Regions from separate parts of the Homo sapiens genome. Here region 1 is linked to region 2. The links come from fine-mapping of genetic effects on gene expression. Tissue or cell type: sun-exposed skin. Region 2 holds a variant in brackets; the other region holds the start of a gene. All regions are shown on one strand. Distances are from middle to middle.

What was found. PIP is the estimated chance that this variant, and not a neighbour inherited with it, causes the effect.
Region 1: COL27A1 starts here. The variant in region 2 is fine-mapped to the expression of COL27A1 in sun-exposed skin (GTEx, PIP above 0.99). The same link has a PIP of 0.9 or more in esophagus mucosa and unexposed skin.

Annotation. Positions count from the first base shown.
Region 1 is chr9:114,151,450-114,159,543 of GRCh38, reverse strand. COL27A1 (collagen type XXVII alpha 1 chain) reads right to left here and starts at 4,007. Exons shown (of 61, transcript NM_032888.4): 1 at 3,532-4,007. The coding sequence starts at 3,593. LOC105376225 (a long non-coding RNA gene) reads left to right here and starts at 5,276. Exons shown (of 5, transcript XR_930256.3): 1 at 5,276-6,449; 2 at 6,547-6,704; 3 at 6,857-6,951. RefSeq lists silencers at 2,841-3,135, 4,023-4,142 and an enhancer at 5,679-6,200.
Region 2 is chr9:114,274,218-114,282,318 of GRCh38, reverse strand. It overlaps COL27A1 (collagen type XXVII alpha 1 chain), which reads right to left. Exons shown (of 61, transcript NM_032888.4): 37 at 6,551-6,658; 38 at 1-42. Among named protein-coding and RNA genes, the nearest start is that of ORM1, 45 kb to the left of the region's middle. RefSeq lists enhancers at 218-1,030, 4,522-5,721. The variant G/A (reference allele first, on the strand shown) is at 3,267.

The DNA.
Region 1 (8,094 bases), 120 kb after region 2:
CCCTTGCCTTCCTGTGTTCCTGCGATCCCATTTATTTCTGTTCCATCTCCTTCCAGCCCCCTCTCTTCCTGGCCCTTGTCTGGCACCTGCCCTCACTCCTTGAGTCCTTCATTGGATTATGTCACATACCAAACTTCCTAGGAAGTTTCCCAAACTGATAAAGAAAGGCGAGGTGGGGAAGAGAAGGTACAAAAACGACACATGTCCTTCTCGGTCAGTTTCCCTGGCTACAGCTATACCAAAATGACTACTCTGCAGAGAATTAGAGGGCAAATCCTTGTAATCTCTGAAAATCAGGAAGAAGAAGTCCACAGGAGACATGGAATCAGAATCTTCTCTTCAATTAAGCTTCCTAACACCATGGCTTCCAACTTGAGGACTTCAGCCCTGAAGGCCTATTACAGAAGTATTCAACCTCCATTCATTCTCCCTGACAAATGCAGCTGACCCTCTTGGAAATGGATTCTGTGTGCACTTGACCCATAAACTTCCCAAGTATAGAGCATGTCAGAGTGGAAGAAGGCCATTTAAGATCATCTAGGGGTCAGATTCTAGTCCTCTCTCTCCCTTCTTTGAAAAGATGCGTAACTGAGGCCCAGAGAGGGCAAGTTACTTGCCCGAAGTCACACAGTGCTTCAAGTCTATGACTTAACAGATAGTCCTTTTCATTTGACTTGTCTCCATGGAGCAGAAATTGGAGACTTGCAGGGACTTCCTACTTGCCAGAGACCCGAGCCCCAGCCTTCACCAGCAGGAACAGAGATGCAACCCAGGGAGCCAACGAGCCATCTAAGTCAGCTCCAGGCCTGGAAAGTTGGCTCTCAGAGGGAGGCCCTGCCGATTCTTTTGCTCCCGTTCCAATCCTGTTTAGGCTACTGCTAATCATGGTTAGTGCCTGTGCTGGCTCAGGGCTTTGTTCTTCCAGACTTCTGTTTTCACCACTTGTCTTGTGGGCCTTGTCTCTGCAAACCCAGGGCTCCAGAATGTCAGGAAGACCAGAGCACAGAGGCCAGGGAGGCCAGGAGGCAGCCGAAACGGGAGCCGCGAGGAAACATCACATGGAAACATCGTCTGGCCACACAGCCCTCCAAAGAGGAAACCCAGGTGTTTCTATGCCCTTGCAAAAGGCCCTCTGCCAGTGCACCAAATGGGGCTACTCCTGGGTAACCACACTGCCAGAACCGGCAGACTGCTTGGATAGTTTTCTTCCATCCTTATTACCTGGAAACACACAGGATCTTAGAAACCCACACCAGCTTCAACAGTCACTGAGGGCTCTGAGCTGAGACCCAGGCCACAGAAACACACAGGGAAAGTGGCCCTGTGGACACTAGGCTTGGCTGTTCACGCATGGGGTAAAAGCTGAAAAGGGAGCTAGCTGGAACTACAGCTCATCAAGTGGGGTGGACCTGTCCCACCTGCCTCCATGGACTGGCCAGACCCCCTGTGCCCAGACGGCTATGCCTGGGCTTTCTTCACAGCTTCCACGTCCTCCATGGGAACACAGACAGGTCATCGTCTGGAGAGGATGCAGCCCAGAACTTTCCCATTGACTCACACACCCATTCAACATGAAGGGAATAATACAAATACCAGCTGCCGTTTACTGAGCACTTATTACATGCCAGGCCCTGTTCTAAGCCCTTTACAAGCATGGTCCTGTTCATCTTCACAAAACCCAGCCAGCTAGGAATAAGGTGCCGGTTTTGTGGAAGAGAAAAACAAGCAGCAGAGTGGCTCACCCAAGCTGGCACAGCAGAGTTAGGATTCAAACTCGAGCCTGCCTGATGGCAAGCCTCATGGCCCTCCTGTGGTGCCGCCTGCCTCCCACCAACATGATTCTGTGAGTGTCTCACTGCTGTCCCCTACCACCAGTGGATATGTTACTCTGCGTAGCCAAGCCAGGCATGTGGGTATCAAGAGGGTCCCTGGACAGAGATGGAGGAGAGAAAATGCCAACAAAGAACAGGGGAGTGTGCTCAGAAAGGGACAGAGACCACCAGGAGGCTGCTGGCTGCTGAGGGTCCGCAGCGCTGGTGGAGGCACAGGAGAGGGAGAATGTTCTGAGTACAGGGAGGAAACAGAAGGAGGCAGAGGCCAGGGATGTGTCCATAGACATGACATGGAGTTTGGTCCGGCCAGAAGGGTCCAGGAGCAGAGGCATGCTGGAGAGCAGAGGCATGCTGGAGAGCAGAGGTATGCTGGCGCCAGAGCGCACATGATGCAGGACAACGTGATGTCAAGGGAGGCAGGGAGGCAGGAGAAGGCAGAGACTGGGCCTCCGAGCAGTGTTGACTGCCCACTTGCCCACAGCTGGAGCCCCACCATGGGGTGCTCGCCTGGCACCACTTTTCTGCCCAACTGCTGGCATCTACCCTGGCGCAGGGTCTTCTGGAGAAAATGAGTCAGCAGTGTGCTCACTGGTGCCGCGCGCGCGTATGTGTGTGTGTGTGTGTGTGTGTGTGTGTTGTGGTGAGGGGGTGCGGGGCGGGGGAATCGCAAACAGCCAGCTTTTTCCAAGACATGGGGAAGAAAGGAGGGGGTGTCATCCCGCGGACTCCAGCTCAAAGGGGGCAGGGCCCAGCTACAGCCCTAACAGCCTCTGGGGAGTGTCCTGGTGTCCTGGGGGCAGGATGGAAAGAGAGGAGCGCCGTCCACAGGCCCCAACGGGCTGCTTGCATGCTGCTGGCTCCCACACACACCCACACGCTGCGCCGGCTCCAGCACAGGCTCACTCTCTCTTACAACTCCTACTCCACACGCTGGGAATCCCAGCCTCTGGGCCCCAGCTCCGCGCAGCCGCTCCTGGGAGAGTCCCTGCCCCTCTCCGGCCCTGTCTCCCGATCTGTACACTGAGGGGTTCCGCACAGTGATCGCCCAGGGCCCTTTCTGCTCTGACATGCTGGCTCTCACTTTTTCTCTCTTACACACGTGAAAGGGACAGGAACCGAGAAGCAGGAAACACAGACACACAGACCCAGGCCGACTAACACAAACACGCGGAGATTTCCAGAAACGCGGGGACGTGCAGAGCCACACAGACACGGAGACAGGAGCAGAACCCGAGACCTGGTGACCTAGAAACTTGCGGACAATTTCACAAGAACAGATAGAAACGGAGACGTACAGGCTTGGGACCTGCAGACACTGAGACACCGGAACACACCGAGACGGCCCCAAACGGAGACCCCCCTCCTCCCCCAAGCATCCAAAAAGCCCCCCTCCGCACCCCGCCGGCCGCTCCAGGCGCCACCACCCACCCCCACCCCCGACCCCCGGGCTGGCTCTGCCCCCGCCCCAACGGGATCGGGCAGCCGGGCCAGGCGCGGCAGGGCGGGCAGCGTTCGCCAACTCTCGCCCGGCCGGGGGCGCAGCCCCTATTAACCCTTGGCGTCCCGCCTCGCGGGGGCGCAGGAAGGGGCAGGAAGCTGACGTTCCGCTGGAAGCGACCGCATGGCGGGGAACCCCGGCCCTCCCCGAGATTGGAGCAGCAGGAAGCTAGGGAGGGGGCGTCCCCGAGTTCGTACTCACCCCCCGCGCGCCGCCGCCGCCGCCGCTGTGCCTCGGGCCCCCCGCGCCGATCCCGCTCCCATGGCAGGCCCCTACTTCATGCTCCCGAGCCCGGGGGGCAAGTGTGGGCGCGCCCCATGGGGCCGCCAGCCCCCCGCCCCGCCGCGCCAGGCCGGCTTAGAGCGCGCGGCCCCCGCGCCCCCAGCGCAGCCCCGCGCCCAGGGGCGCCCGAGCAGGCAGGCAGCGCGGCTGGGGCCCCGCGGGCGCCCGCGCCAGGCCCATGGTCCCAGGAGTCCGGGCGCCGCGCTCGCCCCTGCCTCGGTCCTTTTCTGCTTCCACCAAAAAGGAAGAAGAAGCAAGAAAAAGAGAGAGAGAGATGATCAAACTTTTGGAGGCGGGCTGCTGGCGGTCCCCGGAGGCAGAGCAAGGCCGGGTGAGGGCGCGCGGAGGGCGGTGGAAGCTGCCTCCCCGCCGGCCTGGGGGAGGAGAGGAAAAGGAAGGATTTGGGGGAAATGAAGGCGATTTAAAGTCTCGGCCCGCGGTGGCTCTCCACCTTCCCTCCTCCCCGCTCCCGGCCGCCCTCTGCTGCCCCCTGCTGCCCCCTGCCGGCCGGAGCCAAGGGTACAGCCTCAGCTGGCCCACTACAGCCCCGATGGGACACCCGCCCCCCTCCTCCTTGTATAGATGGGGAAACAGATTCACAGAGAGGAAGGGGCTGCCCAGGGCTTCACGGTGATTTGATCACCGTTCTGAGATTAGGAACTTCTGACTGGTGAGGCTGGGGGTCCTCCAATGGGGGGTTGGGGTAGGGGAGAAGGGCCAAATTCTACTCCTGGAAGAAACCCACAGTTTCAGGGACGGAGCTAGGACCAGAACTTGGTGTCCAGACGCCCACGACAACCAGTATCGTGATCCCCACCGCCCACCAAAAGTTTGCGCTCCCAGACTCGGAGCGCCCTGGAGAACATATAGGGTGGGCTTGTTAAGGGTTTGCCACCCTCTCTCTCCCTTCTGTCAGCAATTGGAATCTAACCGCACCCCACCACCACCACTAACCACGCACCTCCCCAGAATCGACAAAAACTCCCTCGGATCCCATCCGGGAGCTAAGAGCTGCACACCTTGGCCCCCGGGCAAATTCTCACACCCAAAACTCCAGTCCAGCCCTGGGACCACAGCTCCCTCCGCCTCTACCACCTCTTGCCACTCGTTCACGAGCAAAGTTACACTTATTCACCGGTGCACACACACACTCCCACACGTATCCACCCTTTCCCCAAACTCAGACACACGCTCACACACGGTCCCATTCTGGGACAGCCACGCACCCTTCCTAGGTTCACACGAAACGCATCCTCAGATATCTGGGCTCAGGCGCACGCTGATACTCTACACTCGCAGAAGCATGCACACGGATGCTTACACAGGCACAAATGCACGCTATCCTGGCCATATCGCCCCCACACATGTACACACCCCGGGTGGACACACGCGCGCACACCCTCACTTGCACACAGTTCTCCGAGAGTGCCCACCGCACATGTGCACACACGCATTCACTCCTCACGCGTGTACCCACCTCCCCATACGCGCACACCTTTAGGCGCGCGCACACACAGGCATATAACACTTCGCACCGCTCCAGGAGCCCCCAAGCACTTACTGGGTCCCTACGTGCGAGGCTGGCCGGTCGGTCCTTCCTCCGGCGCCTAACGGCATTTGTATTCATGGGTCCCCGCAGCCGTGGGCGCGGGGGCGGGGGGCGAGGTCCCCTTCCCTAAACGGGGCGCGGGCGCGCGGAGCGCAGCGGCACCGGGAGGGGCATGGGCGCGCGGGACTGCGCCGCCGACCCGGTCCGCCTGCGCTCGAACTTCGGCAGCTCTGCGTCCACGGGCTCCGGCGCGGGCTCCGAGAGCTGGGGGCGGCTCATAGGTGCTGGGGCGGCGGCGCCCGCCGGGCCTTTTGAAGTCTCCGCTGGGGGCGGGGAGGGGGCGCTGAAGGCGGCCTTTTAAACCCTGGCTGCACGCGGGCTCGGTCGAGCAAGGTGTCTGGTTTCAACAAACTTTAGGAAAAGTCCCAAGCCGAGAGAGGGGAGGTAGGGGGGTTGGGGGAGCTGCATAGCTGTGCGCTGCTTCCTGCAGAGGGCAGAGCACCCATGGCTGCCAGGAGGGAGGCCAGTCGCGGGACTGGGGAACTGGCAGGCTGCTGGCCGGCGCGTGGAACCACCCCCGCCACCCCCGCACCCCCAATGTTGAACCAGAGTTCTTAACTTCCATGTGCACGAACCCCAGGGAGTGCAGGAACACCCCCAAACTGTGCACAAATTGAGCATGTTTGTGCATTCTTCAGGGGAGAGGGGCCGTGGGCTTTCCTCCGGTTTTCAGAAGTCCACGGCCCCCTAAGGTTGAGAACTCCCTCTTCAATCATAACTGATGTTTTTTTAGTTGCATACTTGGTACCATGCAGACCCTGTCTTTATTTACATTTTAGATATTTTGTTCATTGTGGGGTTTTGCATTAATTTTGATACTTTTAAAAATATTTTAAAAGTAAAAAATTAAAATATTATTTTGATTACTTAGGGGTTTGGGGCACTGCTTTGGGCAATTTACCTCCGTTGCTGAGTTTTCTTGGCATCTCCTGGTATGCTGCATCTCTGCATGTGCCACACCCTAGTCCAGACCCTGACCCACACAGTGCTGGGGTTTAAGGGAGGCCTGCTTTTTTCTCTCCATTTACAGATGGGAAAGCTGACATAAACGGGTAGGTGGTAGAGGTGGGATTTGAACCCAGGTAACCTAACTCCAAACTTCTGCATCTTGTCATAAGGATCCAAATCTTAGGCTTTAAGGGGTTCTGTGCAGATCCTCAGCAGCCTCCCCAGCTTCAGATCCGGCCTCCTGAGCTCCAGTCTCTCTGATACCTGCACCCAGGCTCAGGTAAGCTTGACTACTTCGATGCTTTCTCCATACTGTTTCCTCCCAGGTTCTCCCTCTGCCCCTTTTCTGCCTGTTCACAACCTGGTTATTCTTCTAGGTGCAGGCCAGAGCTCACCTGACTCTGGTGAGCTGCTCTGCCCTACACCGGGATTGCAGCACACATCACATGGCGCTGTCATTGTCAGATCCATCTCTGTGTCCCCACACCCAGCCTGACACATGGAGCCTGGGATACAATAGATGCTCAAACCGTTGGTAATTTAAATAAGTTATTTGTTTTAACTCCTACAGTATGCAAACCCCTGTACAAGACTCTGGGGGAAAAGGGTCTGCCACTGTGGGGGCAGGGACAAAAATTTCCATATGGTCCTGCCTTCTGGTCATGCACGCATTTGTAATGTGGACAGGAGACACGCACAGCAACTTGGGGTAGGGAAGAGAGTCTGGATGGGAGACATCAGACATCACTATGTCATGGAGAACCCCCTGCAACTGCATAAAGGTAAGATAATATAAGGAGAATGTGATAAATGCCACCAAAGAGATGCAGATCAATTGAATTGTGAAGCTGATTAAGGGATGGAAAGAAACCGAGGAAGGCCCCCAGGAGGAGGTGGCATTTGGATCTTAAAGGGTGTGTTGGATAAATGTGCAGCCACAGAGGAGAAGGACATCTCCGGTGAAAGAGTCACAAAAAGACCAAGAGGACAGAGTTGGATTTCAGGCAGGTTTTGAAGGAGGATTGAGGCGGTGGGGCCCAGTGAGAAACTGGGGAAACTGTCCAGTTCTCCCCACTGTATTGTGTGGGTGATACCACACGACTCACTGTCCACAAAGCCATTTCCAGGCAAGGGACTGCATTTCCTGAAAGGTCAGGCAGGCAGCAGGTCAGTGGCTAAGCACCAAGGCCTTTCCAAATTTCACTCACAAATGTGAATAGGCAAGGCTTAGTGCCAGGGAATGCTGCCTGCTTCACCCAGGTCAGCCCAAAAGACCCGTGAGAATGCTATGAGAACCCAAAAGGATTGAGGACATCCCCTCTCAGAGCCTCACTCTGCCCATCTGTAAAATAGGTGCATCAAACGTGATGATCTGTGTGGGCCCTTTGAGCTTGGAGGCATGAGACTGTCCTTCAACAAGAAATCCAATTATGTATGTGAATATTGAGGGCTAACTGCATTTTGCTAGGTCGGGAGGGAAATGAGGCTCATGGCCTTCCAGGAGCTCATGGGCAGCTGAGAAGAGGAGGCAGGGACACTGGGGAGAATTCCAAGGAAGGGCCTTGTATCCTGCCTCTGCCGTCTCCCCACAAGCAGTCTTCCTGCCAGGCAGGTTCTTGGCGCAGAGCCAGTGACTGGGCATGAACTGTTCTGATGGACGTTGAATCTGGAAGACACCAAGCCATTACCCACCCTTCAAAGGGGACAGCACACTCACCAAACAGCCCTAAGGGGCCCATTTCTATGGGGCAGAAGGCAGTAAGCCTGGGAACCAGGTGGGCAGGGGCTGCCAGGCCTCTGTAGATGCCTCAGGATGAGAATTCCTGGCCTGGTGGGGACTTTCAGGGAACACATAGTTTGTTCCCTGCTCAAGCAGCTCAGCCATGGACCCATCGGTCTCTGTGGCACATCTGCCTTAGGAGAAG
Region 2 (8,101 bases):
GCGGCCCTTCTCGCCTTGCTTCCCTGATTTTCCTTCAGGACCCTGAAGAGAGAGGAGGGACAGAGCAAGAGAAAGATGAGAGAAGAGAGGAAACTGAGGCGGATCCGCAAGGCGGTCAGACTGTCGGCTCTGGAGGCAGATGGCCAGGTTCGAAACTGATTCTGCCACCCAGTACCCACATGACCTTGAGCCTGACCTAATTTCCCAGGCTCAGCATCCTCTGCTGTGAAGTGGGGACAGTGTCACAGAACTTAGGGATTCGACCTGGCGATGTAAGAACGTGCTGACAGTGAGGCCTGGGTGCAGGGGTGGATGGCGGGTGCGGCTTCTGCAATTGCTGGCTTTGCTGTTGTCATGGTTACTGTTAGGCATCCAGGGGTGTCCTACAGGGAGCAACTCTCTGCACTGAGCTCTCTCCAGCGCCAAGTGCTGTTCCACCCTCCCAACGACCTTGAACATTAGGCCCCAATGAGACCCGCTTCCAGTTGAGGCAGCCAAGTTCCCAAAGATACAGTGACTTTTGCCCAGGGTCCCAGCTGCGCCTTGCAGGCCCTGAATCAATCCCAGCTGTTCTGGCTCCATGCCCAGGGCTCTTACCACCCCTGGCTCATGGTCCCCACTGATGACATGAGGTGGCAGGAGAGGATTTATAGGTTCTTCCCTATCTCTGAGATGTTGTGCGTCACTTGCGAGCAATTCCTGTGGGCATGTCCCTTGAACGGGCCCCTCCTCTCTCAGGGACTGGGCTGGAGGAGCCTCCTCACAGTAGGGAATTGTGCTGGAAAGGTCAGCTGCCTTCTCCCACTTTCCTTGGAGTCCCCAGGCCATTCCCTCTGACAGGCCACTCTGCCCCTGCCCCACAGGGCTTCCCAAAGAGATCCTCCGGCCTGATCTGCCCTGCCCTGCCCTGGGAGGGCAAATCCAGCTTTGTGTCCACAGTTGTCAGAGAAACTGCACAGCAAGGGTGAGTGAGTGTGTGCAAGTGTGAATGTGACAGTAAGAGACAGACACAGAGAGAAAGAGAAGAGAGAGAATCAATCCTGGGCCATACTAGGTCAGGATGGAGGGAGTGGGGCAGGCAGCGTTTCTGGCCTGGAAAGGACTTCTTGACTGCAAGCCTCAAAGGATCTAGAAAGAATGTCTATGCTCTTGGTAAGCACTAAGGAGCTGCTTTGATGTAATCCCTCTGGTTGCATTAACAGAGGCACCAGATGTAGAATGAAGGAGGTGATGTCCCATTTGGGAATAGGTATTGTACTTTAAGAAGAGGCACTGACTAATTGTGATAGAAGAGGGACAGGAAGAGGAGGTCCTAGAGGAACAAGGAAACATCTGGACCAACCCAGAGGACTTGGTTCCTGTCTGCAGATTTCTGCAGCTGTTCTGGAGGCAGGGCCAGCCATGTTCTCTAGGGTGGCCAGCGCATGAAAATTATGGGGCGGCTGGCTTTGATTCAGCACAAGGGAGAAATGTCTGCTCTAAAGACTAATGCGGCATCAACTATGATGCCAGAAAAGATGACGCTATCCCAAAGAGATGCACCAGTCAGACCACCCTGCGGTCCTCAGAAAGGCAGGAACAGTGGCCCGGGAAGGACCTCAGCACAGACTGCCTGCAACCCAGTGCCTGAGTCTACATGTACCCCTGGACAAATCCTGCTCTTTCTCTGAACCTTAGTTTCCCCACCTCTAGTATGGGACTAGCCCCGTGGCCTCCAGCCACATACAGCTACCGAACACTTGAAATCTGGCTACTATGACTGAGGAACTGAATTCTTAATATTATTTAACTTTAATTAATTTAAAATTAAATTTAAGGCTGGACACGGTGGCTCATGCCTGTAATCCCAGCACTTTGGGAGGCTGAGGTGGGTGGATCACTTGAGGCCAGGAGCTCAAGACCAGCCTGGCCAACATGGCAAAATGCTGTCTCTACTAAAAATACAAAAATTAGCCAGGTATGGTAGTGCACGCCTGTAATCCAGCTACCTGGGAGTGCCGAGGCATGAGAATTTCTTGAACCTGGGAGGTGGAGATTGCAGTGAGCACCACCGCACTCCAGCCTGGGCGACAGAGTGAGACTGTGTCTCAAAAGAAAAAAAAAAAAAAATTAAAAGTTGACACACCCAATTAGGTTGCTACAAAACTTGTTTGGAGTAACTTGGGTATATGAACCTACATTGTCAACTGTAAATTTTATGAAATCTAAATACAGATCAAGTATTTCCAATGAAATTTTATATACAATGAAAATCTAAACACGGATCAGGTATTTCCAATGAAAATTCACATCTGAATTGAGTATGCTATGAAAATATACTATACACTGGATTTCAAAGACTTACTACAAAAAGAGTGCTAAATATCTTATTAATGATTTTTATATTGATTATATTTTGAAATGATAATATTTGGATATATTGGGCTAAATAAACTATATTATTAAAATTAATTCCTTTTTAAATTTGAGACAAGGTCTCTCTCTGTTGCCCAGGCTGGAACACAGTGGCTCAATCTCAGCTCACTGAAGCCTCAACCTCTGGGACTCAAGTGATCCTCCCACCTCAGCCTCCCGAGTAGCCAAGACTACAGGCATGCACCACCACGCCCAGCTAACTTTTTAATTTAATTTAATTTAATTGTTATAGAAACAAGTTCTCACTATGTTGCCCAGGCTGGTCTTGCACTTTTAGGCTCAAACAATCCTCCCACCTTGGCTGCCTAAAGTGCTGGGACTACCAGCATGAGTCACTGCACTGGCCCTTAAAATTGAAGTTACCTGTTTCTTTTTGCTGTTTTTAAAGGTGGCTACTAGAAAATTTAAAAGGAGTGGCTTGTATATGGCTTGTATTTCATTTCTATCGGACTGCACTAGGCAATCTCAAAGTCTCCAGCTCCTCCGGTAATAAAACACCAACAATCCCTACAACCCTCACCACGGGCCATGTGCTGTGTTCTCATTCCACATAAATGTTTGTTCAATTCTCGCCAGTGTTTGGAGGAAGGGATTATTTATCCCGTTTTGGAGCTAAAGGAACTGAGGCTCAGTGAGAGGAAGCCCTCTGTGGGCCTCCCAGCCAGGTCAGAAGTGACAAGCAGCTCCTCCACTTCTGGGGCACCTCTCCTTCCAGGCTGGTCTTGGTCAGGCAATGGGGAAGCCATGTCACAGTGATTGGTGGCATTTTCCAGTGCACTGAGGTGGCGGCAATGGCTGACTGATCCCTTGCAGAAGGCGAGATGAGTCAGTGCTGAAGCATCCGGTACAGG[G/A]GCAGGGAGACGGGAGGCTGCGTCTCCCCTGGGACAGGGTGCCACTTGCTGGGACGTGCCCTCTCCAGCCGAGAGCATACATACAGTGGGTGAGGCTGTGGGTCCGGAATGAATATTTCTGCTGGGCCCCATCCATATAGATGCATTTCTGGAAAGGCCCCGATGGCTCATAAAATTCTGTTTTTAAATACTCAACTGTTTCCAGGCCACAGAGTGGGAGGTATTTATCCTGATGCCAAAGAGACTCAAGTAAGGCCCCTCACTGCCTTATCACTTGGCACACACTTCGTCTGGCCCAAGTGACTCTCCTTCCAATCCCGGCATATGAGAAATGGGAGTGATGGCAAAATATTGACATTAACACAGCTACCACCACCACACCACTACTATCATCATCATCACCATCATCATCACCACTACCTACGCCATACCACCATATCATCATCATCACCACTCCCACCCCCACCACTGCCATGACCACCATCATCACTCCCCTGCCATCACTACTACCATCACTACCACCCATCATCACCACCACTACCACTATCATTAGTACCACCACCACCATTATCACCACCACCATCACCACCACCATCATCAGTGCCCCATCATCATCATTATCATTACCACTATCACTATCACCACCACCATCGCCACCAGCACCATCATCACCCTCACCTCCACTCCACTATCACCATCGCCACCAGCACCAGCACCACCATCACCACCTCATCACAGTCACCACTACCACCACTACCACCATCAACACCCCCATCATCTTCATCATCATCACCACCACCAACACCATCATCAGTACTACCACCATCACCATCATTATTATCGTCATTACCACCACTACCATTGCTGCTGCCCCCACCCACACCATCCACTCACCATCACCACCAGCCACCACCAGCCTCTAGTCACTTTCTCCTCTAAATTTATAAAGACAATCTTCTATATTTCTGGTGCATTTTATAAAGTGCTTTCCTACCCTAAGTTTTATTTATTCTTTATAGATAAGAAAACCAAGGCTCAGAGAGGGGCAGTGATTTGCCCAAAGTCACACAGAGAATGGGTTACTAGAGCCAGAAACTCAAGTTCAACCTCAGGACTCTGGTTCCAAGGCTATTTCTGCCATGTGTTCCTGCCCATTCCACAGCCATGATACTCAACACTCACTAAAAAAGGGTCCCTAGAACGCTGGAGCTCAAAGTAATCTTAGCACACATTCCTTCCAAACCCTCCAAGGGCAAAACCAGAGAGGGCAGGGGGCGGGTGAAAGGTCGCAGACCAAGTTCCTAATGCAGAATCCTGGCCCGGGACCCTCCTGCTAAATTCCCCTTGGCCTACTTCCCCGCCGCTGAGTCAAGCCCGCCACTGAGTCAAGCCTGGGGGAAGCCTCCTGGCTGACTCAGCGCCCTCGTATTCTTCTCTAGTTTGGTGAGTTCATTCTGTTGCAGCTGTTTAGGGGGATTGGCACTTCAGTGCTATTTTTAGGAAACAAATATTTTCCCACAACCATAGTTTGTTGCAGGCTAACTTGGATCTGTCCTAGGTTAGTCATGTAAACACTTCAGGGGGGAAAAACAGTGTCAAGAGCAGGCCTGAATCAAACTGGGCTGCTTTGCCTAGGTAACAACGTCAGTCTCTCCGCTTGAGGGATGAAGAGTGAAAATGACACCCCAGGGAGACTGGGATGGCAGCAGAGGCATGAGTTCTCACCACCTGGTTGGCTCAAGGTAGATGCCAGCAGGCCTGTGCATTTGGGCATTTTGTCTACGAGGCCACCTAATCCACGGGTCCCAAGGAGTTCAACTGAACCGACCCAGCACTCCTGGGTCACACAAACCCTGCTCAACTGTACAAGACTACCACTGCCCCCCACTACCAAGTCAAGTTCCGAGTCATCAGTCCAGTATTTGCGACACTCAAAAATCAAGCTTCCACCTGCCTCCAGCTCATCCTCACAGCCCCACAGCCAAGCCCTGGATTCCAACTCTGCCAGAGCACAGGGGCAGTATGCGTAGAGTCATGCAGGCCTAAGTTCAAATTCCAGCTTTGTCATTTCTCACTGTGTGAGCCTGGGAAGTTTCCTTTACCTCTCCGATTTTCCCAATCCTCAGGGGTTGCTATCGGTATCAAAGAGGGAACCTTCGAGAAAGCATTGGGCAACTTGTCTGTACATGTTGAAACAGGAGAATTCTGCTCCCTTCCCTACTGGCTTCTATGTCCCTCAAAGTCAGGGATGCTTTCTGATTTACCTCTTCAATCTCAGGGGACCTGGCCCAGGGAAGATGCTCGTGAGGGTCTGTGGACTGACTAAGTACATTTCTGTTAGGGTGGAAGAGCAGAGTTCCTCCGTCTTCTCAATCAACAAACAGACTTTGGTCACCTCTTATGTGTCAGGTACTGGTTTTGTTGTTGTTGTTGTTTGTTTGTTTTTTTGTGACAAAGTCTTGTTCTGTTGCCCAGGCTGGAGTGCAGTGGCGCAATCTCAGCTCATTGCAACCCCCGCCTCCCAGGTTCAAGTGATTCTCCTGCCTCAGCCTCCTGAGTAACTGAGACTATAGGCATGCGCCACCATGCCTGACTAATTTTACATTTTTAGTAGAGACGGGGTTTCACCATGTTGGCCAGGCTGGTCTCCAACTCCTGACCTCAAGTGATCCACCCGCCTTGGCTGCCCAAAGTGCTGGGATTACAGGCGTGAGCCACCGCACCTGGCCAAGGCACTGTTAAAGACGTAAATGAAGGCCAGAAAAGGTCTTGGTCTTCATGGAGCCAAGACATACACTGAAGGTTATGCATGTCCCTGAGGGCTCATGGCCCAGCCTGGGGGCAGGAATGGCTTTTTGGAGCAGGTGATGTCTATGGTGATACCTGAAGGCCAAATAGAACTTAAGCAGGTGACAGGGGAGTGAAGAAGGGAGAGTGTCCTAGACAGAGCACATGCAAAGGCCCAGGGGTAAGGGCCACAGCTTGTCCAAGAAACTGAAAAAAGTTTAGTGTGTCTGGATATGGGGGATGGATGAGATGAGGTCGGCAGGGACCAGGTTTGCACAGGGCAGGGCAGCCAGGAGGATGAGTAACCGAGGTTGTTCTCCAGAGCCATGGAGCATTGAGCAGATTGGTTCTCTGGCAAACTGCCAGGTGGAGAAAGGACCACAGCAGAAGATCCTTCAGTGGCACGACCAAAAGCCCTCCCGCCCAGCCGCCTGCACAGGCATGAGAGTTCAGGGTACCCCAGAGCTCCAGGCGCTGCAAGGGGCCTGCACACTCACCCGGACACCAGTGACGCCAGGGGGGCCGGGGGGCCCGTCCTCACCCATCAGCCCTTCCTGGCCTTTCTCGCCATGTTCTCCATCAGGCCCTGGGTCTCCCCTGTCCCCCTGGGTGGCAGGGCATGAAGAGGGGAGAGAGAGAGAGAATAAGTTAGTTGCCAAGTGCATCAGAGGCCCCAAATCTCAGGGCTCCATTCAGGCATCCACAGCCAACTGGTCCCTAGATTCTCGATAGTTCCCTCTGCAGCCAAAAAGGCAGGGTGCTGTGACTCGGCTGCCAAGCCCAGTGTAGCTCTAAGCTTGCACAAGGATGCATCCCAGACGTAGAGGCTCCCATGTGTCCCTGCCTGGGCCTGGGCTGCGAAGGGCAGAGTGACTCAGAGATAAGCCGGGGTCCTGACTGCACCCACCCCATGGAGTTCACAGGAGACAAGGGCAATTTCTCTCCAACTTAGACACATTGGGAGAACAAGAGTCTTATGAAGCAGATTTTTTTTTTTTATTTTTTAGACAGAGTCTCACTCTCTCCCAGGCTGGAGTGCAGAGGCGCAATTATAGGTCACCGCAGCCTCGACCTCCTGGGCTCAAGCAATCCTCCTGCCTCAGCCTCCCAAGTAGCTGGGACTACAGGCACATGCCACCATGCCCAGCTAATTGAAAAAAAATTTCTTTTTTTGTAGAAATGGGGTCTTGCTACAAGAGAGCTTGAGCCCAGCAGTTGGAGACCATTGACCAGGCTGGTCTCCAACTGCTGGGCTCAAGCAATTCTCCCACCTCAGCTTCCCAAAGTGCTGGGATTACAGGTATGAGCTGCTGCAACTAGCTGAAAGAAATTTTCATCAAGAAAGAAAATTCACCCAATTCTCCTTCTCAGAACCACTCTTTCCATTTTTCTGAGTTGTATTTTCAATCCTCGATGACAAAAACACAGTGAATAATAATAATAATAATAAATGGTAGGTAACAGTTTGGATGGTATGTACCAGGCTCAGGGCAGTGAAGCAACTCTCCCAAGGCAATGAATCGGACAGCAGTAAACTAAGCTCTAAAGGCACAATCCCACTGGACTGCTGGTCTCCATCTTTGTTTGTTATAGTTACTGCTTTGCTCTATGGTGAACGTGCCCTCCTATCGCTCTGGGCTCTGCATGGCGATCATTCTTATTGGCTGCAGAATACTTTCTCTGGGGAGTGGATGGAGCTAACATTTATATAGCACTAACCATGTCAGGACCATAGTCTGAGTCCTTTAACATCTATTAACTGACTTAATCCCCACAAAAGCTTTCTAAGGCTGGTCCGCTTTTAGTCCCATTTTACAGAAGAGGAAACTGAGGCAGAGCTAAATCAAGTGGTCTGGCCCAGAGGCCCACAACTGGCTAGCGGTGGAGCTGGACTTTGAAGCAGGATCCTGAGCGTATCCTCTTTACAGTGATAGGGCTGTAACCAAGGTCTTCTTGGGGCTTCGGACCTTTGGGGCACCTGAGGTTATTTCCTTGGAAAGGCAACCCTTGGCATGGGCTTTTTTTTTTTTTTTTTAGACGGATCTCAT